Regions from separate parts of the Homo sapiens genome. Here region 2 is linked to region 1. Evidence: fine-mapped QTL for protein levels in blood plasma. Region 1 holds a variant in brackets. A gene starts in the other region. All regions are shown on their forward strands.

Region 1 (15,395 bases):
AATTTCTGACTAGACCAATAACAAGTTATGAAATTGAGGCAGTAAGTAATAGCCTACCAACCAAAAAAAAAAAAAAAAAAAAACCATGACCAGATGAATTCACAGCCAAATTCTACCAGAGGTACAAAGAAGAGCAAATACCATTCCTTCTGAAACTATCCCAAACAATAGAAAAAGAGAGACTCCTCCCTAACTCATTTTATGAGGTCAGCATCATCCTGACACCAAAACCTGGCAGAGACACAACAAAGAAAAGAAAATTCCAGGCCAATATCCCTGATGAACATTGATGCGAAAATCCTCAATAAAATACTGGCAAACCAAATCCAGCAGTACATTAAAAAGCTTATCCACCACAATCAAGTTGGCATCATCCCTGGATGTAAGGCTGGTTCAACATATGTAAATCAATAAACGTAATCCATCATATAAACAGAACAAATCACAAAAACCAAATGATTGTCTCAACAGATGCAGAAAACGCCTTCGATAAAATTCAACAGTGCTTCATGCTAAAAACTCTCAATAAACTAGATATTGATGAAACGTATCTCAAAATAATAAGAGCTAATTATGACAAACCCATAGCCAATATAATATTGAATGGGCAAAACCTAGAAGCATTCCTTTTGAAAACCAGCACAAGACAAGGATGTCTTCTCTCACCACTCCTATTCAACAGAGTATTGGAAGTTCTGGCCAGGGCAATCAGGCATGAGAAAGAAATAAAGGGTATTCAAACAGGAATAGGAACTCAAATTATCTCTTGTTGCAGATGACATAATTGTATATTTAGAAAACCCCATTGTCTCAGCCGAAAAACTCCTTAAGCAGATAAGCAACTTCAGCAAAGTCTCAGGATACAAAATCAATGTGCAAAAATCACAAGCATTCCTATACACCAATAATAGACAAGCAGAGAGCCAAATCATTAGTGAACTCCTATTCACAATTCCTACAAAGAGAATAAAATACCTAGGAATACAACTTACAAGGGATGTGAAGGACCTCTTAAAGGAGAACTACCAACCAGTGCTCAAGGAAAGAAAAGAGGACACAAACAAATGGAAAAACATTCCATGCTCATAGATAGGAAGAATCAATATTGTGAAAATGGCCATACTGCCCAAAGTTATTTATAGATTCAATGCTATTCTCATCAAGCTACCATCGACTTTCTTTACAGAATTGGAAAAATCTACTTTAAATTTGATATGGAACAAAAATAGAGCCTGTATAGCCAAGACAATCCTAAGCAAAAAGAACAGAGCTGGAAGCATCACGCTATCTGACTTCAAACTTACTGCAAGTCTACAGTTATCAAAACAGCATGGTACTGGTACCAAAACAGATATATAGACCAATGGCACAGGACAGAGGCCTCAGAAGTAACACCACACCTCTACAACCATCTGATCTTCAACAAACCTGCCAAAAACAAGCAATGAGGAAAGGATTCCCTATTCAATAAATGGCGCTGGGAAAATTGGCTAACCATATGCAGAAAACAGAAACTGGACCACTTCCTTACACCGTATACAAAAATTAACTCAAGATGGATTAAAGACTTAAACATAAGACCTAAAACCATAAAAACCCTAGAAGAAAACCTAGGCAGTACCATTCAGTACATAGGCATGGGCAAAGACTTCATAACTAAAACACCAAAAGCAATGGCAACAAAAGCCAAAAATTGACAAATGGGATCTAATTAAACTAAATAGCTTCTACACAGCAAAAGAAACTATCATCAGGGTGAACAGGCAACCTACAGAATGGGAGAAAATTTTTGCAATCTAGGCATCTGACAAAGAGCTAATAACCAGAATCTACAAGGAACTTTAACAAATCTACAAGAGAAACACAAACAACCCATCAAAAAGTGGGCAAAGGATATGAACAGACACTTCTCAAAAGAAGACATTTATGTGGCCAATAAACATGTGAAGAAAGGCTCATCATCATTGGTCATCTGAGAAATGCAAATCAAAACCACAATGAGATACCATCTCACACCAGTTAGAATGGTGATCATTAAAAAGTCAGGAAACAACGGATGCTGGAGAGGATGTGGAGAAATAGAAATGCTTTTACAGTGTTGGTGGGAGTGTAAATTAGTTCAACCATTGTGGAAGACAATGTAGCAATTCCTCAAGGATCTAGAACCAGAAATACCATTTGACCCACCAATCCCATTACTGGGTATACACCCAAAGGATTATAAATCATTCTACTATAAAGACACAGGCACACATGTTTATTGCAGCACTATTCACAATAGCAAAGACATGGAACCAACTTAAATGCCCATCAATGATAGACTGGATAAAGAAAATGTGGCACATACACACCATGGAATACTATAGAGCCATAAAAAAGAATGAGTTCATGTCCTTTGCAGGGATATGGATGAAGCTGGAAACCATCATTCTCAGCAAACTAACACAGGAACGGAAAACCAAACACCGCATGTTCTCACTCATAAGTTGGAGTTGAACAATGAGAACACATGGACACAGGGAGGGGAACATCACACATGGGGCCTGCTGCGGGGTGGGGGCAAGGGGAAGGAGAGCATTAAGACAAATTTAAGCTCCTAATGCATGCAGGGCTTAAAACCTAGATGGCGGGTTGATAGGCACAACAAACCACCATGACACGTGTATACCTATGTAACAAACCTGCACATTCAACACATGTATCCCAGAACTTAAAGATTAAAAACAAAAAAAGAATCGTCATTTTTTAAAAGCACCCTCATGTGATTCTGAAGCAGTTATTCAGCAGTGATTACTCTTTCAGGGAAAAGTAGTTCAATTATCATTTATCACATCAGAAAACATTCATATGCTTCAGATTATAAATCAAATATTATTCATGGTTCTCAGTTTACAACACTAGAATTTTTAGCTTCTTTATGCACATATGAATGCATAATTTTATAGATGTAAGCATTGTATTTAATTATAGCCAATACATAAATGGAATATTATTATATTTTATAATGATTTTTTCTTTTTTAGTTGCCTAAACCGTCATTTTTCCAGTCATTACTCCATCAATTGGCATTCACTTTGTTTCTAGTTTTTGCCACTTTCAACAACATGGCAGAAAGGAATCTTTGTATATTTGTCATTACATACTAGTGACTTTATTGGTAAGAAGAAATTCTCAGGGATAGAATTATTGGGTCAAAGGGTCTGTGAATCTTTGAAAATAATTTTTAATAGAAACTGCCAGATTGCTTTCTCCAAAGGCTACCTACCATATCTCACACTTCCAAAAGCAGTGTTTGAAATGGCCTTTTTCTCTGTATTCCCGCCAGTAATAAATATTGATGGTATTTCAAATTTTTGTTAGTCTGATTTGTATAAAGTGATAGCTCATTGTTAATTATAATTTCAATCCTCCAGACATTTAAAAATGTCTGTCATTTGAAATTCATTTTGTGTCAATTGTCTTTTCATAGCTTTGCCCAATTATCTATTAGATGTTACACATACACATACATACAATTTACATTCACATATATTAACCCTTTTGTGCTCTGTACAGTTTCTAAGAACTCTATGTATCTATGTGTGTATATATATAGTATGTAAAATTAGCTCTGCATTTTATAGATATTCACAATTTATATTTCATGTACTTTAAGAGTTCCAACTCTTATCCTTTGTCTTAATCTATATTTCGTATATACAAATATTCTGTAGTGTCTTGTACAGTCTTTACCATAGCATGTATTATACAATGTAGATATATAATATGTAGATGAATTATAGGAATATATAATATTTCTATAAAAAATACTTTTTCTACATTTCATTTCTAGATGTAGTCTTCCCCAAATTATTATTTTAAAAACAGAAAATGTATCTAGTAACTCATTTCACAATCTTTTTCTCTTGATGTATAGCTTAACTATACGTCTTGTTCACATTTGAATTTTTTTTTATGTTTTTCTCATGAAAGCAAGTTGTAAAATGCAATTCTAATCATCTTGTCTCATCTGAAACTTTCAAAGCTCATCATCACCTCTTCAACAGACCCCCAGTGAAAGAGAACATAAAGTATAGCAGGTAAGACCATTCATTACAGGGCTCTATGCAGCCTTTTCAGCTTAGATTCTAACCACCTCTCTTCTCTCCACATGGCCTCTTCATATTACCACCTATAGACTATGATATCTTTTATTAAACAATCATGTCTTTGCCAATAGTAGATTTTATCTCTATCTTCAGTGCTCACGGTGCCACTTGTTACCATAAATACGTTCAATATACGTTTTTGAATAAAAAACTTCTTATAGTTCCCTAAAGGCATGGTTCTTTTTTCTGCCTCTAGTTTGCACATACTGTGTCCTTTCTTTGGAACTGTCTATTTTTCAGTTATTTTTAAAGTTTACCTTAAATATCATATCATCTTACAACAACCCCAAAGTTTCTTAGGCAAACTTTCTGTAGTGCCTTGTACAGTCTTTACCATAGCATGTATTATACGATGTAGATGTATAATATGTCTTATCTTTTTCCTGAAATGATACCTGTAATGTCTTCAAAAGATTAATTTGTATTTGTTTACTCAGTTTCTCCTTAGCTCCATGGATGTGTTATTACTATTTGTGTGTATAATTAAGAGATGAATCAGTTATATTTATAAGCTTTTATATATTCTCAATATAGATATATACATATACAAACATATGCACATAAGCAAATAAAATATGTTTATATACATTCTTTCTTTCTAATGCCAGAAGAGCTCTCAGTCCTCAAAAGGAATGCAGCTGTTTTGAACAATGACTAATAAATTCTCATCACTCACCTCACTGGGTTATAAATTCCCATTTTCCTTTTCAGTGTGGCTCAGAATGGCCTCCTTTTCCATTCCAGAAATAGGAAGAAATTTAGACACAGAAATTAGTTCAGCAGCACTGAAATCAGCTGACTCATGGGAATTTTCTGAAAGGAAGAAAATAATTACTGGGAAATAAACCAGACCTCTTCTCACGTAACTGTGAGGCTCTTTGAGCAACTAAAAACACCACCCATAACTAGGAAGAAAAGCATGTGTGATTTAAGGGGCAGAGAAAGTCTTTCCTATTTCTTAAATATGTTTCCTGACACAGTAACAGTACATGTTCCTTAAATATGTTCCCTGACACAGTAGCAGATGCATAATTCTTTGGATGGAAGAAGTGAGGCAGGCCCCTCTCAGAAGGTCAGGGACCCTTCATGGAGTAAAGACAATGGGTTTTGGGATATTTCTTCCAACCCAGTAAAGTCATCCTGCCCAGATGCAGAATTAGTGCACTGGTGCTAAATAGAAGTTCAAGGATAAAACAGCATGATGTGATGAGAAATAAGGCTAGTTCTGTGGATTTGTATGGCTTCTCATGCAATAAAGATATTGAAAGTTTAAGGTTTTAGACTTTTAGGGAAAAATATAATAAATATCAAGCTAGAGAAAAAAAATGACAGGAAATGGGAATGGAAGAAACTGTGAAAGACGTATGTAGGTCAGAGGATACAAAGTAGCAGATACGTAGAATGAACCAGTCTAGAGGTCTAATGTACAACATGAGGATTATAGGTAATAACATTGTGCTGTATGTAGGATTCATGCTAAGTGAGTAGGTTTTAGCTGCTCTTGCCACAAGAACAACACAAAAAAGGGTAACTATGTCAGATGATGGGTGTGTTCATTTGCTTTGCTTTAGTAAGCTTTTTACTATCTATATACATCCCATAAAATCATGTTGTATACCTTAAATATACACAACAAAATTTAAAGAAAAAAGTTAAACTGTCACTTATGACAATCTTTTGTAAGATTAATTTCTGTTTTAATAAAATGAGGTCCAAGTCATAATATTCCTCTGCATGGTTCTTTCCATACCTCTATCAGGAATAATCACAGGCCTCTTAAGCTAAAGGCCTCCCTATGATTGCAATTTTGATATTCTCCAAGAATAATTTTCAGTCATTCTTGTCCATTATATGCATCTAAGCTTCCTATTACATTTTTAGACTTTTTTAACTGTTTATCAAAGTAGAATGTCTGTGCCTCAACTGCAGCCACTGATCTGAACCCCTGGGCAATAGACCCTCCAAGAACCCACAGACCTGAGGAATTCATTAGGTCCAGATCATCTGCATTCAGGCAAGAATTCATCTCCCGGTATTGAATTTGGTGGACTAAGTTCTCTCCTCTTGAGGAAACTGAAAACAGAGATCCCTAGGTTAGGGATCAGCTATCATAATAAAATTTCCCTTGCTGTAAGTGTGTTTTTTCCAAGCGCTGCAAACATACCTCGTCTTTATCCCTGCTATTGTTTCTATCCCATTCTACTACCAAGCTCTTCCCTTACAATTCCGCACACTCAAATGAAATAGGCACAAGGCTAAATCTTCCCCACTGCCATTGTATTAATATAAACAACCCACTGTTTTTACCCAAGGAAGCCAGCAGTCTTCCATAACTCACTGGAGCTTTTCTTAAGTATCTCTAAAAGTCTTTCCTCTCCCCTCCATTCTCACTATATATGTTATAGTACTTTTCATTTTTCACCTCAACTGTTACAAAATGCCATTCCTGTCAGTCAAGTGGTCCTCCTTCAATCCTCCTAGATCCCGTTGCCAAAAGATCTTCCTAAAAGATATCTTGACCATTTCACTCCCCTACATGATACTCTTTAATGACTATGAATCTTATGTGAAACATAAGAACTTCATAATTTGTGCCTTTTCTCTTCTTCAGACTTAGCAGCCTCTCTCCTCACACTCAACTTTTCTCCCCCCGCCCCTCAGGAAAAAAACAAGAAATGCTTCATCCTTTAGGCTTCTCTAGACTTGTACATATTCTTCTCTAGAATGTTCCTCACCCAATTCTCTGAGCCTCTATGTTCGAAATTTGTCCCCAAGCCTCTTTGAAGCCTCCAGTAATCCCCCTCCCCTTTCAGTTAATTACTCCCTTCTCTGTGCCACTTTTGTTCCTTTTTCCTATTAATGTAAAATGGCTACATTGTAGTGTATTTGTTTACATATATATCTCTTCCACTAGACTTGAAGTTCCACCAAGATTTATTGTCCATGTCTGTATCTTCAGAGCCTAATACATTGCTCAACAGAACAGTAAAATTTGTAATAAGGAGATTGATTATAGTAAGAGAAAATAAATGTTTAGGTAAAAAGTCATCCTAAACAATATCTAACATATTCATTCTGAACTTTCAATTCTGTAATGTTCCAGTTAAGCATGTAGATAGAACACAGGAATCATCAATGCAACCTAAACCCCTTTTCTCCTCTGAAATCTTATTCCCTCTATTTAAAAAATGAAAAAAATCTGTAGAAATGGGAGCTCCCTGTGTGGCCCAGGCTGGTCTTGAACTCCTGGACTCAAGCAATTCTCCTGCCTCAGCCTCCCAAAGTGTAGGGATTACAAGTGTGAGCCACTGTGCCTGGCCCTTCCCTCTGTTTTGAGAAACTGCTCAAACCTCTTTTAGAGTCCATCTTTCTGGCCATTAGACTTGAGTCTAATATTTTCGTCTTACAAGAACCCCCTTATCCTGTAGACATATTAGATAAACCAAATTTGGCTCAAACCTGCAAGCCGCTGTCTCTGTCTTCGCTTTTTAGTCAAGAAGAATAATGCGACGAAAATGGCCAACAGAACAACCCCAAGGATCCCGACTGCAATAAAGGATGACTGACGGGATGAGCGACCTAAGTAAAAGTAAATATCAAGAGATATGATCATGTCTTATCGAAAAGATCAAGGTCCCTAGTTACTGATTCTCTCTTAGGTCAAATACTTGATCCCTGAGGTAAATATCAAATCCTCAGAACGTCTGACCTAAAATTTCTAAACAAGAAAAATTCTATGTATGCAGATAATTGGTCTCATCATCATAAACTCCATGATATACCTGTTGTGGCTTTTTGTGGGGTTTTCTGCACTGAAATATCTGTAGGAGAAAAGAAAGAGAGAGGGTTAATTCTTTGCATGATATATAGAACAAGCCTTCTGATTTCCTTGTCTGACCCCTTAGTACCTCTCAACCAAGTATATGACTCTTTCCCACCTAAAACTAGAGTCCTCTAGTCTTTCTTTCTCTGCACAGGGAATATAGGTTGTATGTGTCTCCTTGGTGAAGGCCGTTGTATAACAATTGTTTTCATCATTCTTTCAGTAGAGACATTATGATTCTCTGAGAATCCCCACCAGATCCCTGTGCTGATAAATCCGGTTTTTACACAACACACATCACTGCCCAACCCCTCTTTGCTGCCAGAGATTCCAAGCTCAATCCAGGCTTCTGGCACTTACCTGTGCAATTCACTGCAGCGTCTTCCTTGTGCCCACACTCACTATGGCCCCAGCGTCTGGCAGGACAATCCCACAAGGAAGACTCATTCCCTTTGCACTTCACTTCATTGAGCCATATCGGTCCAGTCCCCTGACCAAACTCTGCTTCTTTGAATGCTTTCAAAGCTGGACCACAGCCAAGTTGTTGACACACCACCTGAGCATCGTCCAAGTCCCAAGAGTCATCACACACTGTCCCCCAGGAACCTCCATGCCAGATCTCCACACGTCCAGAACAGGAAGTGGGTCCTTCCTGAAGTCTTATCTTGTCTGAAAAATCAGAGACATGTAGCCTATTTCTAAGACTTCTAAAAGTTTCCAGGAGTTCACAGGTGAAAAGAGAGATTTGAAACTTAAAAAAAAAAAAAAACTATTTAAAATTTTACTGAATGTGCATATTAAAATTTATATATATATATGTATATATATATATATATTTTTTTTTTTTTTTTTGAGACAGAGTCTCGCTCTGTCACCCAGGCTGGAGTGCAGTGGCACAATCTCGGCTCACTGCAAGCTCCGCCTCCCAGGTTCACACCATTCTCCTGCCTCAGCCTCCCAAGTAGCTGGGACTACAGGCGCCCACCACCACACCCGGCTAATTTTTTGTATTTTTAGTAGAGACGGGGTTTCACCATGTTAGCCAGGATGGTCTCGATCTCCTGACCTCGTGATCCGCCCACCTCGGACTCCCAAAGTCCGATTACAGGCGTGAGCCACCGTGCCTGGCCTAAAATTTATATTTTTACAAAATTTATCTTTTATAAGAGGACTTGTCATTACAGCCAACTAGGTATATTCCATCCTGCACATAAGATACATAATGTGACCCAGTAAATGTTAAATGATTAAAGTTAACATTATAAATATGTGATGTCAAATTCTTTCAAATAGGCAAGATCTTGGGAAACTGGCAGGTTGTCACAAATCTCACAGTTTAAGAAGATGTAGAGGCCAGGCACAGTGGCTCACACCTGTAATCCCAGCAATTTGGGAGGCCAAGGCGGGTGGATCACCTGAGGTCAGAAGTTCAAGACCAGCCTGGCCAACATGGGGAAACCCCATCTCAACTAAAAATACAAAATTAGCTGGGCATGGTGGCTCATGCCTGTAATCCCAGCTACTCAGGAGGCTGGAGCAGGAGAATTGCTTGAACCAAGAAGGCAGAGGTTGCAGTGAGCCAAGATCACGCCATTGCACTCCAGCCTGGGGAACAAGAGCAAAACTCTGTCTCAAAAAAAAAAAAAAAAAAAACCTGTAGAATGTGGAAATACTTCAGAATTGATCTTTCTGATTTCTGACTGCTTTTCTCCTTATATTAGTGTAACAAGATAATATTTGAAAGAAAAATGGGAAGGTAAGGTAGACCATTCAACAGTCAAATATTAAACCACATATTCTCTCCTCCTCAGAGAAAGCAATTGAATAAATCTTTCAAGCAGACCATGGGGAGTATGATATTCTTTAGAATAATAATAGCTGATCCTGAATATCTACAGGCCAAATTAAATAAAACCAGTTACACTATCCAGGTAGAATAGATATTACCCACAAGTTACCCATTCTTGCTTAATTCAATCTAACAATTTAAGCCAGTGTGAGAATAGGAAAATAAAATCCAGTGTCCATTATCAGAAGATGATAGCGGGGCTGCAGAATGGAATTTTCATATAGGTCGATGGATACTCACTGTCACATGTGATCCAGGTCTCCTCCGAGGGGCTGGCCAGTCTCTTCTCCCATGGAGATGATGGGCACTGCCACAGC[G/A]TGTCAGGTCCTTTTGGACACTGAACATTGTCCACCCACATGGGAATGGACATGGCCTTGTCTAAAGATGCAGGGTTGATTTTCCCTTTGTCTGCACAGCCCAGCTGCCTGCACACCACACCCACAGTGGTTTCAGACATGCTACTCTTGCCAACAGTGCCCCAAGCTCCATTGTAAAAAACTTCCAGACGCCCTGCACAGGCCTCTCTGCTGGCTTCACTGGTCAGTCTCAGAGACATGAATTCTGCAGCGAAACATAGAATTAGTAGTTTTGCATCTTTTCTGAAGATTCAGAGACTCCTTCCCTTTACCTTGATGTAAGAATGGCTTTAAAAATAGGTACAATAGTACAATATGTCAGTTACTAATAATTCGTTAGTAACTTCTGGATGATTTCATAGATATTATTAAAATATTTTATTTATTCTATAAATACATTATAGTTTTTTGGTCTTTGGTTTTGGACTCAGAGTCCTCTTTAGATTACCCTCAATCATTCTAATAGGCTTTTTTCAGTTACATAGTTTGGATTTTTTCCCAAAAATATTCTCCTTTTTTTGCAACTGTCTTTGATAGTTAAAATTGTTAGACACTCAGGCACTAAAATCAATGTTTTGTGTACATCTCTTAAAATGACAGTTCATTTGCTGACACTTCACAGTTTTGCAGTGCATGTCTTCTACCAGATTTATGTCATTAAAATAGGAATAAATCACTTCTGAGATACAGAGTTTTTCACTTCCTTAAGTTACTGAATCATAGTTCTGTTCCCCATAATACATATGAAATAGTACATTTTTAAATTTCAGAATGTTTTCTAAAACTCACCATGTATACAAAGCAGTATGAGGGCAGTAACCTCATGCTACTTTTTGTTTCTATGACAAGTAAGTCTCATTTATCTGCCATGAAAAATTGCTTGGGCATAGTAATTATCTTTTTTTCTGTAGAATGATGCAACATATATATTTCTTCTTGTCCCTTTAAATCTACTTCTTTACTAATACTGTAATTATCAAGTGTTGCTATTGGATCGCTATCTAATATCTGGCCCCAAATATATTTATTAAAAACCTTCATTATTAACTTTGTTGTCATTTTCATGATATACAAGACCATTTCTGGTCTTTTCTCTTTACAATGTTGCACTACCTTGCTCATGAAGTACCACTAGCACATCAAACCCAGACTTCTGTTGTCCTGACTCCCACAATAGTTCCTTTTGGATCAACTTTTCAGGAAAATCTTTAAGATTAATACCCCTCACTACCCTTCCTCAGTCCTTTCTCTATGTAATTATGACCAAAGGTCATATGCATAATTTACCTGAGCAGATAACTCCCGCATCCTCCTTGTGCCTGCAATTTTGCTGCCCCCAGCCGTGTGAATGGCACTGCCAAATGCGGGATTCTTTTCCATTGCATTTCATCTCATCCAGCCAGATGGGCCCTGTTCCTTCCCCAAAATGAGCAGAACCAGTGGCATTAATGGCCTCTCCACAGCCCAGCTGTCTGCAAACCACGTGGGCATCACTCAGGTCCCAGCTGTCATCACAGATGGTGCCCCAGGAGCCCTCATGATAGATCTCTACTCTCCCAGCACAGCGACCTCCTCCATTTACCAGGCGAAGTTGACCACTCTCTGCAAAGAGAAATGAAACTATTAATAATGAGCATTCCACTTGTTATTAATATTTTCATAGATTTGTCACAGAGTCTTACCTATGCAGGCCACAGCACTTTCTTCTGGAATGGTAGGCCTTGTTGGGCCCAAAGACGATGAATTGCACGAGGACAGTGTTTGGGACTGGTTTCCTGCAAACACCAAGGTACTCAGTCATACAAGACACAAAAGGTTAGGGGAGTCAGATGAAATGTTATATGGATGAGTTGAGGACAAACATAGCTTAGAGAGAGAGGGGAAGGTGGATGGTCAACAAGTTTGAAATAAATCAGGTGCTTTGAGATGGGCTTGGCACATAGTAAGCACTGGATAACTAAGAAGTCCATCAAAATTAGGTTTGCTCACCCTCTGAAAAGACAAATGAGGTTAATATTCTGAAGCATGAATTAGTATTCATTCTTCTCATGACCCTTCAAAATGGATCACTGCGTTTTACTTTTGTTCTTCATCCCTATGTACACCTTCTCTTAAGACCCATCACTGGCTGCCCGTCATCCTCTTACCTGAGCAGATTACAGAGGCCACTTGCTCTGAAGGACATAATGAAGCACCTAGAGCAGTTACAGGACAATCTCCCATGTGCTGCTCAGTCCCAGTGCAGTGAAACATATGCCTCCAGATCTGACCATTTCCTTTTCCAAAACGTGCTCCTCCTGGGGTAGAAAGGGCAACTCCACATTTAAGCTGCTGGCAAAGAACATGGGCATCTTCTATGTCCCAGTGAGAGTTACAGAGGGATCCCCAGGCACCAAGCGTTTTGAGCTCCACTCTGCCCTCACACGGGGTCTTGCCATTCACCAAGCGAATTTCTGTGTATCCTGGAAGGAGACAGGGCTTTAGAAAAAGACAGCTATGACTCCCTAACCCTGTCCCTTTCACAGTATGAGAACCAATTAAAGATGTTTTCTGGGTCTTACTTGAGCAGACTACTCCAACATCCCTGCTGTGGCTACAAGTTCCTTCTGGGCGGGGTGCTACTGGGCAGAGTGAAAGATGGGACTCATGTCCCTCACACTGGAATTCTTCAGCCCAGATCTGTCCATTTCCCTCTCCAAAGTGAGCTCCCCCCAGGATAGAGACAACTGTGCCACACTGTAATTCCCTGCATAGAACGCTGGCAGCTTCCAGAGAGAAGTCCGAATCACAGATGGAGCCCCACGTGTCACCATGCTTCACTTCAACACGTCCAGAACAGGGAATGTCCCCTCCAACCAGTCTGGGTTCCCTGTGGGCTGAAAAATAAATATTATTTCAGTGAGAGGTAATATGATTTCCAGATTTCCATTCATGATGAGGGTGAAGAAGGTGGTGTGGAGTGGGAAATGGAGACCAGGGTGCTCAGTGATTTCCTACACTTGTTTGTCTTGGCTTTTCTGCCTCGAGTTGGGTATGGATAAATCTAGACCTCCCCATTCCTAGCTGAACTCATCCATCTGAGAGAATTCTGGGACTTCACCTTGTGCAGCCAACCATCCCCAAAGGCAATGATAACTCTGTTCTTCCAAAATTTTGCTTACTTTATTCATAATAACATTAGAGACCACAAACAATGTGTATCTACTATCGCTATCTCTTAGTCTTGCACTCATTCCTCCATGTACTGCAATCTGGGGTCTGCTCAACCTTTTTGAATTGTTCTATGTAAAGCTTTTCAATATACTTCTAATTTTCAGAATGAACATCAGACTTCTTCCTTTTGACGTCTGTTACGTTTGGTATACGTGACCCTTCTTGTCCCATTTTCTCCTCCATTCTTTCTGACAGTGCTTTATCAAAACATTTCGTGTATTCCTTGAGTCAAAGTTCTGTCCGTAACCTTCTCATCTGCTCAATGGACATGTCTCAACTGCTAATAAATATATTTTCATCCATACTTTTTTCTTTAATTTTAGATCCACAAACGTATCTGCTTAGACATGTGGAGCTTAAAGTATTCAAAGTTGAATGAATTATTGTATGACAAGCCCACTATATTCTTTACTTAATTAATGATATACAGGCCAAATTAGAACCACCTAAAATTGACCCACTTTATCTCACCACAAATAATGGTAATAATGATAGCAGTGAATATTAAGTGAGCGTCTATTATATTACATATATGGCATTCCAATAAGCATTTAACAAACATTATTTCATTCAATCCTTAAAATTGCCTTAGGAGATAATTGTTAATATCATTCTGATTTTACAGACAGGGAATCTGAAACATAGAGAGGTGAGGTGTAGTAATTTGCTAAGGTCACACAAGAAATTACTACAGAATTAGTAAGAGAACAGAATTTGAAGCCAGACAGTATATTCCAGAGCCTAGAATGTTGACTTTCATGATACATTGAACATGTAGAAAACCACCATATCTGTTGGTCCTCCAGCATATTTCTTCTTCTGCATATTTGTTGCTATTGCCATAAAGTGATTTGTCATCATCTGTCATGCAGACCTCTACAATAGCTTCGTAAATTGTTTCCTTGCTTCAAAGTCTTTTTTCCAAGAAATTTATGCCATGATTATAAATATATTAATAAATTTCAAATATTTTCATGTGATGTTTTTCCTTTAGATGACTTAACGTTTCCTTAAAATGTATGCAATGATCCCTTACATAATTTCTTATAATTTCTGTAATAATCATGTATGCAATAATTAATCCAAAAGTATCAATGTAATGACCTATAATGTAACAACCTGTAATGTTCTCTGACTCTATTTTAGGCATTTGATGATGGGTGGGTTAAAAAGGCCGCCACAGAATTCAGTCTGTCAGTGAAGATAGATAATACTAAAAATAATAATCATAATCATATTAGCTAACATGTATTTATAGCTCACTGTGTAATTCCTGTGAGGTAGGCCCTATTACCACTCCCATTTTTCTTCTGAGCAAACTGCAGCACAAACAGTTTTCATAGATTCCCTAATTTCGTCCAGCTATTAAAATTAAGGAGAGGTGATAAACACTAATTCTTTAGTACACTTTAAAATAGTATGCTGTTACCTTAAAAGCTTTAATATCTATTACTTTATCAACCTAATTTGATGCTCCAGCCTAAAGATGCTTGGGCATGCCGTAATTTTCATGCTTCTGTGCCTCTGTAGAAACTTTTCTCTCTACTTAAAATTTATTTCCCTACCTTATATACCTAGGAAAAGGCTACTTCTTTTCAAGGCTGTTCAATTTCTCACTAATAGCCTTCTCCTCCATGAACACAGTTCACTACAAGATATACATATTTTAATAGTGATGAACCCAAAAATAGAAATATGTATTAGACATAAAACTAACAAATAAAGGAGTCATTCACTCTGTTTTAGACTATGGGGGAGAGAATAACATAGATCTAAACTGGATCTTGAAAAAAGATGAGGAGTTTGCCAAATACACAGTGTGTGAAACAATCTTTAAGGAATATGGTCACGAAATGCATGGTGTCATTGAAGAATTATAAGTAACTTACTGTAGCTGAAATTTAAAATATAAAGAAAAGACACACCAGAAATAATAAATGGAATTTATATTATGAAGATGCTCTTTGTCAAGTTAAGAAACACAATCATCAAGATAAGTGAGTTTC
Region 2 (15,892 bases), not on the chromosome of region 1:
GCTTGAACCCGGGAGGCAGAGGTTGCAGCGAGCCAAGATAGCACCACTGTACTCCAGCCTGGGTGACAGAGGGAGACTCTGTCTCAAAAAAAAAAAAAAAAAAAGTTCAAATGGCAAAGTTTCTGTTATTTTTATTTTATCATGTTAAAAGAAAAGACTTCCTCTGGTTAAATCAGAGAACCCTGGAACACTAGGGAATGGAATTCTTTACTTTTTAGCAATGTTATAATAAATTCCATAACATAGACCAGGTATTCCATAGGTAATACTGTTATGAATTTCCTACTTATTAATCTAAATCAACAGCTTTTAAGATAGACTGTAGCATCACGTGGAGGACACACCCTAGAATATCATTATAAAGAGAAAATAGGATAAGGAGACTCTATAGTTGAAAAAAAAAGTGCTCTATCAGGAAGACTCCCTGGTATACAGAAAGCAGAGAAAGGAATATGAAAATTTGGTTAAGGTAATTACCACTCTTAAATGTCAATGAACTCATCTGTAAAATGGGTATAATTTTCACTATTTAGTATTAAGACAATTCATGGAGGTTGATGGGACATAGTAGAAGTCAACAAGTATTAGTTTTTTTCTTTCTTACGTGAGTAGTTTTAAAAAGTAGTCATTAGGCTAGACGGAGAAGGGAAGTTATCTCAACTTTTTGTAACTTATGCTACTCATCTAACAAGCACTGCAAAAATGGTCTTTAAATTGCATTTTATATTTCTTCATTTAAAGAAATTCCCAGCAGGGTGCGGTGGCTCACGCCTGTAATCCCAGCACTTTGGGAGGCCGAGGCGGGTGGATCATAAGGTCAGGTGATAGAGACTATCTTGGCCAACATGGTGAAACCCTGTCTCTACTAAAATACGAAAAATTAGTTGGGCGTTGTGGCATGTGCCTGTAATCCCAGCTACTTGGGAGGCTGAGGCAGGGGAATCGCTTTAACTCAGGAGGCAGGGGTTGCAGTGAGCTGAGATCAAGCCACTGCACTCCAGACAGGCAATAGAGCAAGACTCTGTTTCAAAAAAAAAAAAAAAAAAAAAAAAAAGGAATTCCCAAAACTTTGACTAGAAGTATTCCTATATATATTTCTATTTACCTAATCACCTCTTCCTAGCTACTTTTGCACAGTTGAACTGCTTTTATAAACTCCTTCCTAGCTGTGCTGCTTACAAGCAGGGGCCTGGGCAAATGCTCTGTGCCTCGGTTTCTATGTGTATCAAATGAGATAATAACGATACCAGTCACATTGATTTGTCATGAAAGTTACTGGAAATTACTCATGGGAAGTGTTTACATCAGTATCGGCATGTGGTAAGTACTCAACGAGTATCAGCTATGAGCCATACTATTATTGCTATTACCACCACTGCTATATTCCAGTTCTTCTAAAATAAGGTTTTTGAAGCCTATTTTGGTGTTTGGCAAGTAAGTTTTGTGCCCTACTGGTCTAGCACAGGAATAATACTTTTTTCACATTACCTCCATGGCACTTACCTTGTAGCCACTCTTATAGAATGTTAGTACATTGTTCTGTATATAATGGCCACTTATTTTTTTTCTCTCTTCAATTGCTCACCCCTGAGGGCAAAGATGAGACTATACCTTCTTTCTATTGCTCCTTGTACCTATTTTATTGCTCTTTCGAGGTAAGGCTCCAAACCAGCTTGTTGGGTGAATAAATGAATGAAATAATGACTGCATGTAAGGGGTTCAGATTACCTAATTGAATTGTTGGAACAGCAATGTAGAGTGATAACCCAGGCTAGCAACTGGAGGTCTTAGTGTGATCTCAAGGGACCTTTTTCAAAGCAAGTGACCAAGATAAGAAAAAAGAAAGCAGATGGTTAAAGAGATCTAAAATGTTTTTATTAAACATTCTGCAATCTTTTAATGGCAGGACCCTAACAATGTGCTGGGACATGGGGTCACGTATCAACAAGGAAAAAAGTCAAGAGGAAAAGTCCCTCAGAGTTAGTCTGCTTTATAGAGTTTCTTTTTAGCAAGTCAGTTTTTCCAGTGTAAGGTATGTTCATGGGCACTGATCTTCTTGGAGTGAAGTTAACACAACAATAATGACAACAATAGCAAAACTGAGGTTTCTAGGAGAGAAATTCCTCTTTTCCCCTCTGAGGGGCAACTCATTGACAACTCAATGTTGTCAATTGTATCCCTTATTCTATCATTTATCTGTGAAAGCCAGTAATAGCACCGTCACCTCCTCCACCACCTTCCACCTTGCCCTGTCAGAAGAGTCCTTGCCTTCTCAGTTTCTCAGTCTCTGTGTGGCTTCTTTCCAGCCACACAATGTAACCTCCAACCTCATGTTCTTGACCTTGTTTAGTTCCTACTTCTTTTTGATGGACAAGAATCTCATTCTTCCTAAGGACATTCTGTTACTGGCTTCTTGTGGGGGTGTTCCCATCTTCATTCCTGCCCCCACACCAGTTCTTTTCCATATCTACCATATCTATATTGGTCAAGAAGAGTTTGGCCTAGTTTTTCCTGCTATAGTGTGTGTGGTGGAATGAATAGACTTTCTTTTCCTTAATGTGAAATATTAGAATACTGATTATCATTATTGAAACTGCCCAGTCTTCCCTTTTGAGAATCACCTGTTGAGAATCACTGTTCTCACCATAAACTCAGCAATAAAGGACTCAGTAGATTAAGTGTCAAGAAGCAAAGGTGGGAAAATCCTCCCCACAACTAGTACGGAGTTACCCACAGGTGCTCTTCTTTTCAAATACTTTGCATCTGGGGGGAAGCTTTGGCTTGTTTTACAAGGAAAAGAGGAGACTTCCTTTTTGGTCAGCCAACAATCTCTATCCTTTTATTCCGTGCATATTTCATGTATTTGTTCCCCAGCTCACATGGAGCAATACAGCATGCCAGAGTTTGTGTCTTGGGCCAAGTACTCAGGGATGGAGAGTCCACAAGCTGGGCTATTGAAGAGCTTAGGAGAACCTCAGGAAGGCCTTCAGCCAAGCACCTCCCACTGCTCCATGCTTGCCTTAATATTTTTCTTCATTCCCTCTGAAGGAGAATTGCAGAATAACCATTCATATAAATCCAAGTAAAGAGAATGTATTTTTAGAATATCTTCCCATCCACACATTGAACCTCTCCCATGAATAATGTGTCCGTGTTCTCTTTCTCTCTCCACATATACACAAATACAGTCTCCTGAGCCAACCCAGTAAAGTGTTTGTACCATGTTATTAAGTCTCCGGAATGTATTTGGTTTAAGGTCTGGTTACTGCTATAAAGAGCATGGGAAACCTGATGGTGGGGCGTTGGGATCGCCATGGGACCGCAGGCTAACTGGAGGCATTATGTGAAACTATGCAGTGGGAACATAATTACCTCAATCTCACCCTTTCTACACCATATACTTTGACCTTCCTGGAATGACTAATATCTTCTTTCTGTTTTTCAAAACTGAAGGCCTCCACTGGCATTCTGAACCTATTAGACTCTGACATTACTACAAATTTAATTCACTACGTGACATTTTTTTTCCAGCTGGAAGAATATAGATAAACAGATATAATAATATTAAGTAAAAGAAAACCATAAACATAAGGTTCTAAGGAATATTCTCAAATAAGGGTTTCTTTTAATCTGATCATCATCCACATTTTTTATAGTAACAATTGTAACAACTCTTGGCATATATAGGGCATTTATACTATGTCAAGCACTATGCTAAGCACTCTATTTTATCTAATTTCATTACAATAAAAGTATGAGGTATGAAGCAGGCATCAATAAATTCTGTCAGTATCAGTTTATCTGCAGTCTGGGGATCTGTAACTTGACCAAGGTCAAAGAGCTTGAAATTTCAACTTGGGACCATCAGACTGAAAACCTGCAATCTGAAACACTTTGCTGTGCTGCCTTCCTATTATTTCACCAAACATATGAGCACATAAGAAATTTCCTAGGGTCTTAGCATTAATTTTAAGGTTCTCTAAAACTCAAAAAATTACTTTCCTATTTTTTTTGTGGGATGAGAGTTACAAAAAACAGTTGTATATGGCTTGTCTCTTTAGACCTAACAGATACAAATACAGGATGCCCGGATAAATTTGAATTTCAGATGAACAATGAAAACAAATTTTAATATAAATATGTCCTCTGCAGTATTTGGGATGTGATCAAAATTCATTCATTATTTATCTGAAATTCACATTTGAGTGTCCTGCAATTTATCTGCCAATTTTACTCTTAAGTAAAATTAAGCATTTCATTCAGGGACTTTACGTGCTCAAAGCAACAGGTGGAGATAATGCTTCCCTGGGGTTAATTCCAAGCCTGTAGAGAAGCAAAGCCTTCCCATTGCATGAAGTCCCTCCTGGTCTGGCTTCTCCCCAAGTTTCTGGGTATGAAGTTGACCAGAAGCCATGCTCCCTCTTTTTCATGGAGGCTACATTTTATACCACAGTGAGAGGTTGGCATATTCTGACCCTGTCCACTCTCTTTTTTGGGGCAATGTGGGTAGGGCTTACTCTGAAGAAGGACCATGTTCATGCACCTTATTTTTAATCATCAATAATTAATAACTATAATTGTACTAACAATTAACAGAATTCATAGCAATAATCCATGCATCAGTGATGTTAGAAATGGTGTCAATCCACATAACTGTTTTAGTTGTACAGTTGCTGTAACCATAGCTATAGAGTGTGGTGTTTGTTTTGCTAGGTCAATTGCTCCTTCCTTTCCCATGAACTTAGGTGACTTTATTTTCCTCCCTCTTAGCATGTCCCATGCAATGGGCATGCTGTTGTCTGTTTCAGTTCAGGGGTTCTTAAATCACTTGTTCTGGATTCATTCTCCTTTACCAGACCTCTACATTCTGGTTTTGTTTCCAACTTAAAAGCTATTGTAAGGTATTCAAACAGCAGCTCTTTGAATAAACATATTATCAATAGCATATCCTGAGGCTTGATTTTAATGGAAACATCTTGTTTCTGGAATACAATGGCTCGTTTCTACTTAAGATACCCTCTCAGCAGTTGTCTAACAGCTCCTTTCATGACCAGCCACTCTCACTCACCCCCTCACCTTCCCTGCTGCAGAAGACTTCTTGTCTAATATGAGACAAAAAGATCCTGCAGTAGTGTTCCCACTGTCCTAACAGCACAGAGGAGCAGGAAGCCAGTGACAGGGCACACACGTTAAGTGCCGTGGCTTGACAAAATGACTACTGGGACACGCAAGTGGCAGAAGTCACCGATGTGCTGCTGCAGTCCCCGGTGAGAGTCTAGCGGATGAACTCAGAGCACCAACACATGCACTCTCACCCCTTTGAGCAGACACATTCCGAAGCCTCAACTTTCAACTCTCAACATCCAAATGCAACTTACAAAGGAAAACTCTTTATTTCAAGTTTCCGAACTGACCTAGCCCAGGTGAAACTCTCAAGGCACTGGGGAGAGGAAAGAGGCGGAGAGAGAGAGAAGGACGAGTGTGGCACAGCCCGCGGGGGCGCAGGTGCCCCAGCAGGGTGGCAATGGCAGGGACACTGTACCTCGGCCGCAGGCGGCAGGCGTCCCAGAGCCACGCGGGGTTCGCTCGTCTCAGGCGGGTCTTGCCTGCCAACCGCTGAGCTCCCTTCAATGTCAAAAGGAAAAGCGTTGTCGTCCCCGGACGCGGCGCGGGAGCAGGCAGCGCTCCAGAGGAGCCACAGAGGCAGAACCGAGCGCCAGGCTGAGCTCAAAGCCATTTCTCCGCTGACATCCAGTAGTGCTCTTCCAGGGCTCGGGCGCTGTGGGTCTCCGTAGGTCTCCCGCGTGGTGCGGCGGTGCCTCGCTTATTTTCCCTCCTCTCCGTGTGCAGTATCCCGAGGTGGCTGCGCAACCAGCAGCTTAGGAAATAAAGGGAAAGTGCGAGAGTAAGGGAGAGTTCCAGCCTCTCTCTCCCTCTCTCTCTCTCCCCTTCTCCCCCTCTCTCTCCCTCTCCCTCTCCCTCTTTCACTTTTTCTCCTTCCCGCAGAGGTTCTGGCTCAAGAACCTACAGATGGACGGAGCTTACAGTACGGCATCAAAAGGCAGACGGATTGGGGTGAGCCCCGCCAGCGCTAGGCCACCTCCTCTCCCTGGCCGTTCGGGACTGGGGACTGCGCTGTCCTGGCTTCCTTCTCACATTCATTCTCACCACTCCCTTTTTACCTTCTACTCCCAGGCCCTCCCACTCTAAGCTGGCTTTTCAGACACTGAGGTCCGCCTTTCCCTGCGGTCTTCCCTCCCCTCTCAGTTTGGAGCCCCTCCAAGGGCTCCAGAAGAATATTCAGCTTTTGTGACGCTTCCTCACCACTCTTATTTATGTAGTCAAGGTACCGGATGTCTTATCTATATTTACATAGATATTTTATGTGGCCCCCGCTAGTTTGCAGGAAAGTGGGTGGAAAAGGGATTCCAGGGCAGGAACCAAAGGTAGATGATCTCTGAAGGCAGAGGGTCAGGGTGCCCACTTTCTTGAGCAAGGTTTCTCGGGTTTTTTCTGGGGGATAGACTGTTGCACTCTTTGTGCTAATATCTTCTCTTCAGATTCACTGGCCACCCCTCTTCCTCCCTCCAGTCCTCACCCAGAGGGCTTGGGAGAAGAATATCTTTCACTGCAGCGCTGGAAAATGACTTCATTACCCAAATGCATGAACTTTTATTTACAAAGACCATCTTGTTTTCATCCTAAAGAGGTGCTTTGTAAGGGGCCCGGAACAAGGCTTGCAGTGTATGAGCCTGTCAAGTATACTGCCTACAGCCCCGGCCTCTTCCTCTTGGCCTGTAATCTCATGCCTACTACATCTGTCTGAATCATGTAACCTTTCCAAGACTTCAGGGTGAAGTTGGGCTACAGCTATGTCAGGGGTGCCCCTGTGGATGGGATAGTGTCTGCAACAGCTGATAGGTACCTTTGTTTACATTGGCTTCATAACGAGCTCTAAACATTTCCACAAGATCCAACCATGGTTTAAAAATGGTCAGATGAGACAACCATAAAATGACACCCAGGTAAGCTTCCAGGTGAAATAAAGCATTTTTGTATAACCTAATCATAAAATAAATAAATAAAGCCTTTCCATAAAACCTAATCATTAGCTCCATTTCATAGAACAAAAGTCATTTTATCTAAGTGTAAGCAAAACCATTTATTTTGCACCTAACATGTGCCAGATACTTGGCATATGCTATTTGTAAACCTCAGCATTCCTGCAAAGTAGTACCATTATTTTCCTTTTACAGAAGAAGAAAGTGAGGTTCAGAGAGACTAGGACATTTGCCCAAGGTCGCACAGCTGGTGGAAAGCAGAGATGGGGTTTGGATCCAGGCCTCACTGATTCCAAAGCTCTCTTTTACATCTGTATACACGACACTGCAACTTTAAAATAAAGAGTATGAATTCAGAGGTGAAGGAAATGGACACTTTTATTTTTTGAGTGCCTCCCATGTGCAAAAAAATCACATAAATTGTCTCATTTAGGGCTGGGCGTGGTGGCTCATGCCTGTAATCCCAGCACTTTGGGAGGCCAAGGTGGGTGGATCATGAGGTCAGGAGTTCGATACCAGCCTGGCCAACATGGTGAAACCCCGTCTCTACTAAAAATACAAAATTTAGCCAGGCATGGTGGGAGGCGCCTGTAGTCCCAGCTACTCGGGAGGCTGAGGCAGGAGAATTGCTTGAACCCGGGAGGTGGAGGTTGCAGTGAGCAGAGATTTTACCACTGACTCCAGCCTGGGTGACAGAGAAAGACTCCAGCTCAAAAAAAAAAAAAAAAAAAAAAAAAAAAATTGTCTCATTTAATTTCATCTTTATGATAATCTCATGAAGTAGGGATTGTCATACACATTTGGCCATGGGTAAGTGGTAAAATTACTACTATAGCCCAGGTAAATCTGATGGTAAGATCTTTGATTTTAAATGATAAAATTGTATGATACAAAAGAACCAAAGCCAAAGGAAGCAAAAATAATTCCTATAGGTTTTAAAGTGATATTTTGATTTTAAAATATTAAAATAGTATTGCAAGGGACTATTAAGCTAAATTATGATACTCTTCTTTTACATAGACTTGTTAACCTACTAAATTAAGTGGGAGAAGTTAAAAACATGTTTGGTTTAGTTGAGAGACTGATATTGGGAAAAAAGATAGCCAGACTCTGAGACAAAACAGATTATGCTCAGTTATACTGACCCAGTCACCCTTTAAAAGAACATTAAATAATAATAATATTAATTATATATGATGTATATTAAATATTCTGACTTCAGATACAGATCTCTTCAGCTCACCAAAACTCATATATTTGTTTTCTGAAGGATTTCATCTTGTTCTTTACTAGCTGCCAATTAATCACACACTTTTTAATTTAATCTGGGCCCTCTTCTGTCTGCCTGCCCAGTGCTGGTAGGAGTGTATTCGTCCAAGACCTATGGACTTCTTATTTTTGGTTAAATATGTGCTCCCAGCTCTTCCTCTTCATCTTCTTTCTGTGGGTACTATTATTGTTTTTGAGACAAAATGGCATAATATGCAGGGGGATGGGTTTTGTATAAAATAAAACAGGGTTCAAATCCTGGGTCTGCATGTAGTACTTTTGGGAGCTTGGCATGTAACTTAGTCCCTCTGAAAGTTTCCTTCCCTGTAAAATGGGCATAATGATGCCTTTTTGTCATAGGCATTTCAACTAGAGCAATTCCATCTTGAATAGGGGCTGGGTAAAATAGGACTGAGACCTACTGGGCTGCGTTTGGAGGAGGTTAGGCATTCTAACTCACTGGATGAGACAGGAGATCAGCATAAGATACAGGTCACAAAGACCTTGCTGATAAAACAGCATGCGGTAAAGAAGGCAGTCAAATCCCAACAAAACCAAGGTGGTGACCTTGGTCGGACTCACTGCTCATTATACGTGAATTATATTGCGCTAACATGCTAAAATACACTCCCACCAGCACCATGACAGCTTATAAATGCCATGGCAACATCAGGGAGTTACCCTATATGGTCTAAAAAAGGGAGGAACCCTTAGGTTCCCAGAAATTGCCGACTCCTTTCCCAGGAAACTCATGAATAATCCACACCCTGTTTAGCATATAATCAAGAAATAACCATAAAGATAGGCAATCAGCAGCCCTTGAGGCTGCTCTGCCTGTGGAGTAGCCATTCTTTTATTCCTTTACTTTCTGAATAAACTTGGCTTTACTTAACTCTATGGACTCGCCTGGAATTTTTTGTTGCGTGAGATCCAAGAACCTTCTCTTGGGGTCTGGATTGAAACCTCTTTCTGGTAACATTTTCACTGAATTATTATGGGTAGTAAATGAAAGAATATAAATAAACATTAACACAGACTAGCATGTAGTCAGAGCTCAATAAATACTATTTAATTATACAATAAGCCCCCATTTAACATTATCTATATGTTCTTGGAAACTGCAACTTTAAGCAAAACAACATACAATGAAGCCAATTTTACCTTAGGCTAATTGACATAATTAAGATTTATTTAAATTCCTATGACATAGTTCTGGTCACAAAAACATCACTAAACTTCTAAAGAAAGACCAAAATGCTTCTAATGGTAAATATGAAAATAAATGTGAGCTATACGTACATTTCAGAAAGATTAATAGAAACAAGTGTGAGAATTATTTACCCAATGTTTGGTGAATCAGTGAGTGACAGCAGTCATAGTGGTGGTGGGTTAAAGCAAGGAATAAATGTTTTAAAGCAAAAATTATAAGCACCTCCTACCACCATGCAATTCAAAAAAACCCAACAACAAATATGATGGGCTCGCTGAACGCTTCCATGCAGCATCATTTATTGTCATATGCCTGTATGATTATTGTAGACTTCATGAATTTTTATTTGATAACAATTTTTGTTCATTATTCAATCATTTTCCAACCTGCTTTTTCCAACTCAGAGTGTTGGGTGGCTGGAGCCCATACTGGCAGCTCAGAGTTCAAGCTGGGGACCCTGGACAGAAGGCCATTCCATTGCCGGGCACGCTCACACACACACAGCCACACTCACTAAGACTGGAACCATGCAGACGTACCAAGGAACGAGGATATCTTTGAGATGTGGGAGGAAACTGAAGTACCTGGAGAAAACTCACGTGAGAACTTGCAAATTCCACACAGACAGTGGCTCCAGCCAGGAATTGATTTTTTTTTTTTTCTCACCAATATTATGACAAAGCAACATTGAAAGAAACAATGTTATTCTGGGACCTGCCTTACTATATTTTCAAATCTTAAAGAAGAACAAAATGACTATTGTAAAAGAGGAAAGGCAACCATTTTATTTATCCTGGTGTAGGTAACCTCCCATGTTTGAGAATAGCCATTCACATTTCTGGCTGCTACTGGGCCCTTCCTTGCATTAACCAGGAATGAGGCAGTCATGGGCCACAGAGTCATAGGTCAAGCAGATGAGGAGAGAGCACGGCTGACTAATTTACAGCAAGTTAAAAGGCAGCAGAAACCTTTGGTGAGTTACCTCCTCACCAAAGGGCCACTCCTTGACCACCAAACACCTGAGTGTAGGAGGATTTTATTCCTGCCACAAGGGCAACTGGGAAGCATTTCTAGTGCGGCTGCTTTCTTATCACGGCTCTCCCTTTCTCTCCCTCCTGGGATTGAGGCTTGGTGTTCACCCAGTCTTTTCATGGCTGTCATCGTTTTCGGGACACCTATCTACCCCGTGATGACAGGGGTGCTGCTCCATCATCCACAATGCATAGAAGACAGCACGGACATGCAGAGACGCTCACAGTGCCTACAAGGACACTAAGCCCGTTAGTACAAAACGAGGGCCCCCACACCATCCAACTCCCAGACCAATACTTTCCCAACTAGGCCGAGCTATTTTTGGTTCTGGCAGCAGCAGATCTGATGATTTTGAGGTTTTATCAAAAGAAGCTTCTGGAATTCCCTTTTGAGGACCCTAGTGTGATAATCAGCAGATAAATATCAGGGCTGCCTACCCCTTCAGAGCTTGGCTGTTAGACCTGTCCTCAGCATCCAAAGCCCTAAGGAGGGTGTTATTAACACATCCCATGTGCCCTTCTGTAAATAGAAAGTCACGTCAGATGCTATTTTGAACTTGTAAGTGCTAATCTTGACATAACTAGACAGAGGATTGTTGTGGGGACTGTGTACTAGTGACAATAATTTTGTGATGAGATGAGTCAGAGAAGCAAGTATGAACTATCCCCCACCATGAGGTCTCTAACTGGCACTCAAGTAGCAGGACCAGAAAGTGTAAGATGGCGTCTCTTTTTTTCTGCTGATCCTGCTGTCCTCTCAGACCAAGATTCCCTTCTATGAACGACTCTGGTGGATGTTCAGTCTCTGTGAGGAGGAGCAGCAGCGAGAGTGCTAGGAGGTGAATAGGGTTTAAAAGTTGTTCTTCCTGGCTGGGCATGGTGGCTCATGCCTGTAATCTCAGCACTCTGGGAGACCTAGGCAGGCGGATCACCTGAGGTCGGGAGTTCGAGACCAGCCTGACAAACATGGAGAAACCCCATCTCTACTAAAACTACGAAATTAGCCAGGTGAGGTGGTGCATGCCTGTAATCCCAGCTACTCGGGAGGCCGAGGCAGGAGAATCGCTGGAACCCAAGAGGCGGAGGTTGCGGTGAGCCGAGGTTGAGCTATTGCGCTCCAGCCTGGGCAACAAGAGTGAGATTCCATTTCAAAACAAAAAACAAAAAACTTGTTGTTTCTTCTGTTAGTTTTCTCAGGCTTTTGCCCAGGACATGAATAGTATGTGCTATCTATGCTTCCTCTGCAGTCATAGACTCATTTGGCTTTTAGTATATGCTATCAGCATTCTTCATCATTCATTCTTTCATCCATCCATCTATTCATATATTATTTATTTAATCATCATTTGTTAAGTAGCTCAGTACACCAGGTTTAGATGCTGAGGATAAAATGCTAAAGACATTATTCTGTCAAGTGTGTTAAAAAAATATTTATTTATTTATTTATTTGTTTTGAGACAGAGTCTCACTCTTGCCCAGGCTGGAGTGCAGTGGTGCAATCTAGGCTCACTGCAACCTCCACCTCCCAGGCTCAAGAGATTCTCCTGCCTCAGTTTCCCGAGTAGCTGGGATTACAGGCGCATGCCACCACACCCGGCTAAATTTTGTATTTTTTAGTAGAAACAGGGTTTCACCATGTTGACCAGAGGCTGGGCTCGAACTCCTAACCTCAGGTGATCCTCCTGCCTTGGCCTCCCAAAGTGCTGGGATTATAGGCGTGAGCCACCACGCCCAGCTGACTGTCAAGGAGTTTTTTAAGAGTCTGGTTGGACTCTGTAAGGAATGCAATGATTAACAGGAGTTCAAAGAGAAAGTGCAGAAATGCTTCTGATAAAACATATCGAACAAGCCTTTTATCCAGATGCACTTCAAATAGGAAGTGCAGAAAGGCTTCTGATAAAATATATCAAACAAGCCTTTTACCCAGGGGAAGTCAGAGAGGCTTGAGAAGAAGAGAGCAACCGGGCTGAGTCTGAACTGATGGGAGAAGGGGAAGGATGGTGCTCCAGAAGTGAAGTGCAGATGCAGAAGGACAGACAAGTCTGGGCACAGTGGCTCATGCCTGTAATTCCAGTATTTTGGGAGGCTCAGGCGGCGGATCACCTGAGCCCAGAAGTTTGAGACCAGCCTAGGCAACATGGTGAGACCCCATATCTACAAGAACAAAAAACAAAAAAAAACCAAAAAACAAAAACCCCAAATATTAGCCAGGCATGGTGCTATGTGCCTGTAGTCCCAGCTACACGAGAGACTGAGGTGGGAGGATCACCTGAACCTGGGAAGTCAAGGCCGCTGTGAGATCGCACCACTGTACTACAGCCTGGGTGACAGAGTGAGAGCTTGTCTTAAAAAACTAAAATAAAATAAACCAGAGGAACAGACACATCAGGGAACATGATGCCATGGGAGGGTGAGAAAGCCATATGATTTCTAGTTGCTCTCTGAGCCCCGCCAACCGTTCACAGGGTACCGTCCCTGCTGTCAGGCCCACAGAGCCTGCAGGAAAAGAAAGAACTTCCCCAGCCTCCTACTGCTCTCTCAGCACTGCACACCAATCCAGGCCCAGTAAGTAACAGAGGATCCTTCCCCATTGCAAATCTGAACACTGGGAGCTGTTAGGCCTAGTATTTACACCCTGAGCAAAAACCCAATAAAACTGATGGGAGAAAGAACAACTTTTAAAAGGCCTCCATGCCTCTCCTAGCACCCTTGCTGTGCTGTTGCACCTCAAACAGCCTGAACTTCCACCAAAGTCAGTCATAAAAGAGAATCTCCATCTGAGAGGAGAATCAGCAGAAAAAGAGACACTGTCCCTCTTAAACGTTTCATTCCTACCATTGGGTACCAGTTAGGGTACAGGGTGGGGGAGAGCTGGTGCTTGCATCTCTGACTGATCTTACCATAAAATTGTCTTCACTGTTTTTTAGGTGAATAAATTTAAGTGTAGAAATGACATGATCATATTTGCATTAACTTTATTTTTTTTGTTTTGAGACAGAGTCTTGCTCTGTTGCCTGGCGCAATCTCAGCTGGCTGTAGCCTCTGCCTCCTAGGTTCTAGTGATTCTCCTGCCTCAGCCTCCCAAGTAGCTGGGATTACGGGCACACGCCACCATGCCCAGCTAATTTTCTAATATATGTAATTTTTAATTTTACTATAATTACTTTATCTGGTACATTTAAAATTTTATACAAAAATTAGCTGGGCGTGGTGGCATGCACCTGTAGTCCCAGCTACTCAGCGAGGCTGAGGCAGGAGAATCACTTGAACCTGGGATGTGGAGGCTGCAGTGAGCCAAGATCATGCCACTGCACTCCAGCCTGAGCGACAGAGCGAGACTCCGTCTCAAAAAAAAAAAAAAAAAGAAAGAAAGAAAAAAAGGAAAAGAAATTACATGTATCACAAAAGGTGGAAATAATAGTTACCAGAAATCATACTATTCTGGGGCAATAACTTACAACACTGAAAACGTTTTGGTGTAAATACCTTCAGACTTTTGTGACATCTATATTAATGTGACCCATCTATTTTTATATTTTATATATTTTATTATATATTATATATATGTTTTGTACGTATTCATTTTGTCTATTCCATCTATTTTTTTTTTTTTGCAAAAATGAATCCAACTGTACATAATATATTTCAACTTTTTCTCCATGTCAGTGTAACTCCAGTATGTTACCATGAATAGCTTGCAGTGTTCAGATTTGAATTTTGGGAAGACCTCCTGGTGTGGATGGGGCCTGGAATTGAGGACAGTGCTAAGAGACCAGTTAGGAGGCTGGGAAAGCCCTTGCTTCTCATGCAAGCTCTGTTAACCCCAAGGGCAGGGACTATACTCATGAACTGGGGACTCAGGAAGCTTTTGGGGATGATAGTAGCAATGATTGGGTTGGCCTGATGGAGAGTGAAACAAACAGATGAGAGCATGGTCCTAACAAGGATTATTGACCAGCCTCTGCTGTGGCCATTCCTTTAGGTCTAATAGGATAATTACTTCATCAGCAATAAAGGAAAGTGATGGATGCTCCCGGTAATGTTTTCAATAGAGAACAGCAGGTGTCAACATCAATTAGCTCAGTTGATGAGATCAATATAACATAGGAGCTCCTGGGACCTGTTAATGAAATGATATAATTAAGAAGAATGGAACAACTTTCAAAAAAGGAGGCCTAAGAAACTGACTTTTGTGTCCGTACATCCACCCCCACTCCCAGTACCACAAAGGAACTATCCGTTAAGAACAGGATTGCTGTCAGCATGGTGGGAAGATACACAGAATGAAATGTTAAAATCTGTTCTAACCTGCTCTGTGTGAGCAGCTGCAGAAACTAGTCTGTGAGATTTTAACTCAAAAGCTCTATAATGGAAAATGCATGCTGGACATGCTCACTTTAGGATATCAACTGACTTCAGAAGAAACTTTGGAAGTAGGGAGGGCATAACCATAATAGTGCTTCAAATTTTCACAGTGCCTTATGATTTGAAATTGATATATAGTTCTTTCTTCTTCTACAAGTGAGACTGATCTGGCTTTAAATGCCAAGCATAGACTCAGACTTTTAGGAGAAAGATTCCTATATCACAGTCCACCACATCCCTTATTCCTTGAGTATTTAATAATCGAAATAAGATGTTAAATTCACCATCCATTCATTCAACATCAATTCACCATCCATTCACCATCCATTCATTCAACAAATATTTTTCAAATGTCTACTTTGCAACCTGCATTTTTCTAGGCTCCATAGCAAAGAAGAAATCAGACAAAAATTCCTGCCTTCATGGAGTTTACATCTAACTGAAGCAAGGTAGAAGACAGCTAAAGAATAAACAATCAGACAAGATAAATGTATAGTAGGTCACATGGTAAATACTTTGGAGAAAAATAGAGCAGAGTGGGGGTGGGGGTGGTAGAGCATGTAAGCTGAGAAAAGTGGGATGAAAGTATTTTAAATTAGGTCATCAGGGCCAGGTGCAGCAGCTCACACCTGTGTTCCCAGCAATTTGGGAGGCCAAGGTGGGTGGATCACTTGAGGTCAGGAGTTCGAGACCAGCTTGGCCAACATGGCGAAAACTGGTCTCTACTAAAAATACAAAAATTAGCCAGGCATGGTGGCACACACCTATAATCCCAGCTACTCAGGAGGCTGAGACACAAGAATCTCTTGAACCTGAGAGGTGGAGGTTGCAGTAAGCTGAGATGGCACCACTGAACTACAGCCTGGGTGACAGAGCAAGACCCAGTCTAAAAAAAAAAAAAAAAAAAATTGGGTCATCAGGGAGGCCTCACTGACAAGACAATATTTGAGCAGAAT

Alleles and levels. Positions count from the first base shown, and alleles are read on the strand shown. Strength reflects both the effect of a copy and how common the allele is.
In carriers of allele G in region 1, the plasma level of the protein whose gene starts at base 6,154 in region 2 tends to be lower than with A alone (weak association).

Evidence for each region. A credible set is the group of variants that fine-mapping cannot tell apart. PIP is the chance, under the fine-mapping model, that this variant and not a neighbour inherited with it causes the effect. The UK Biobank Pharma Proteomics Project read protein levels with antibody pairs (Olink). The fine-mapping took linkage between variants from a reference panel, not from the people measured, so its PIPs are less certain.
Region 2: LAMA4 starts here. The variant in region 1 is the best candidate, but not a certain one, in a credible set for the plasma level of the LAMA4 protein (UK Biobank, PIP 0.76).

What each region holds. Positions count from the first base shown.
Region 1 is chr12:7,475,036-7,490,430 of GRCh38, forward strand. CD163 (CD163 molecule) reads right to left here. Exons shown (of 17, transcript NM_203416.4): 7 at 12,738-13,052; 8 at 12,324-12,638; 9 at 11,859-11,951; 10 at 11,464-11,778; 11 at 10,061-10,381; 12 at 8,332-8,640; 13 at 7,931-7,969; 14 at 7,608-7,727; 15 at 6,126-6,221; 16 at 4,825-4,878. The coding sequence ends at 4,856. Among named protein-coding and RNA genes, the nearest start is that of CD163, 21 kb to the right of the region's middle. The variant G/A (reference allele first, on the strand shown) is at 10,138.
Region 2 is chr6:112,248,414-112,264,305 of GRCh38, forward strand. LAMA4 (laminin subunit alpha 4) reads right to left here and starts at 6,154. Exons shown (of 39, transcript NM_001105206.3): 1 at 6,046-6,154; 2 at 5,543-5,878. The coding sequence starts at 5,737. All of the region lies in intron 2 of LAMA4-AS1 (LAMA4 antisense RNA 1), which reads left to right.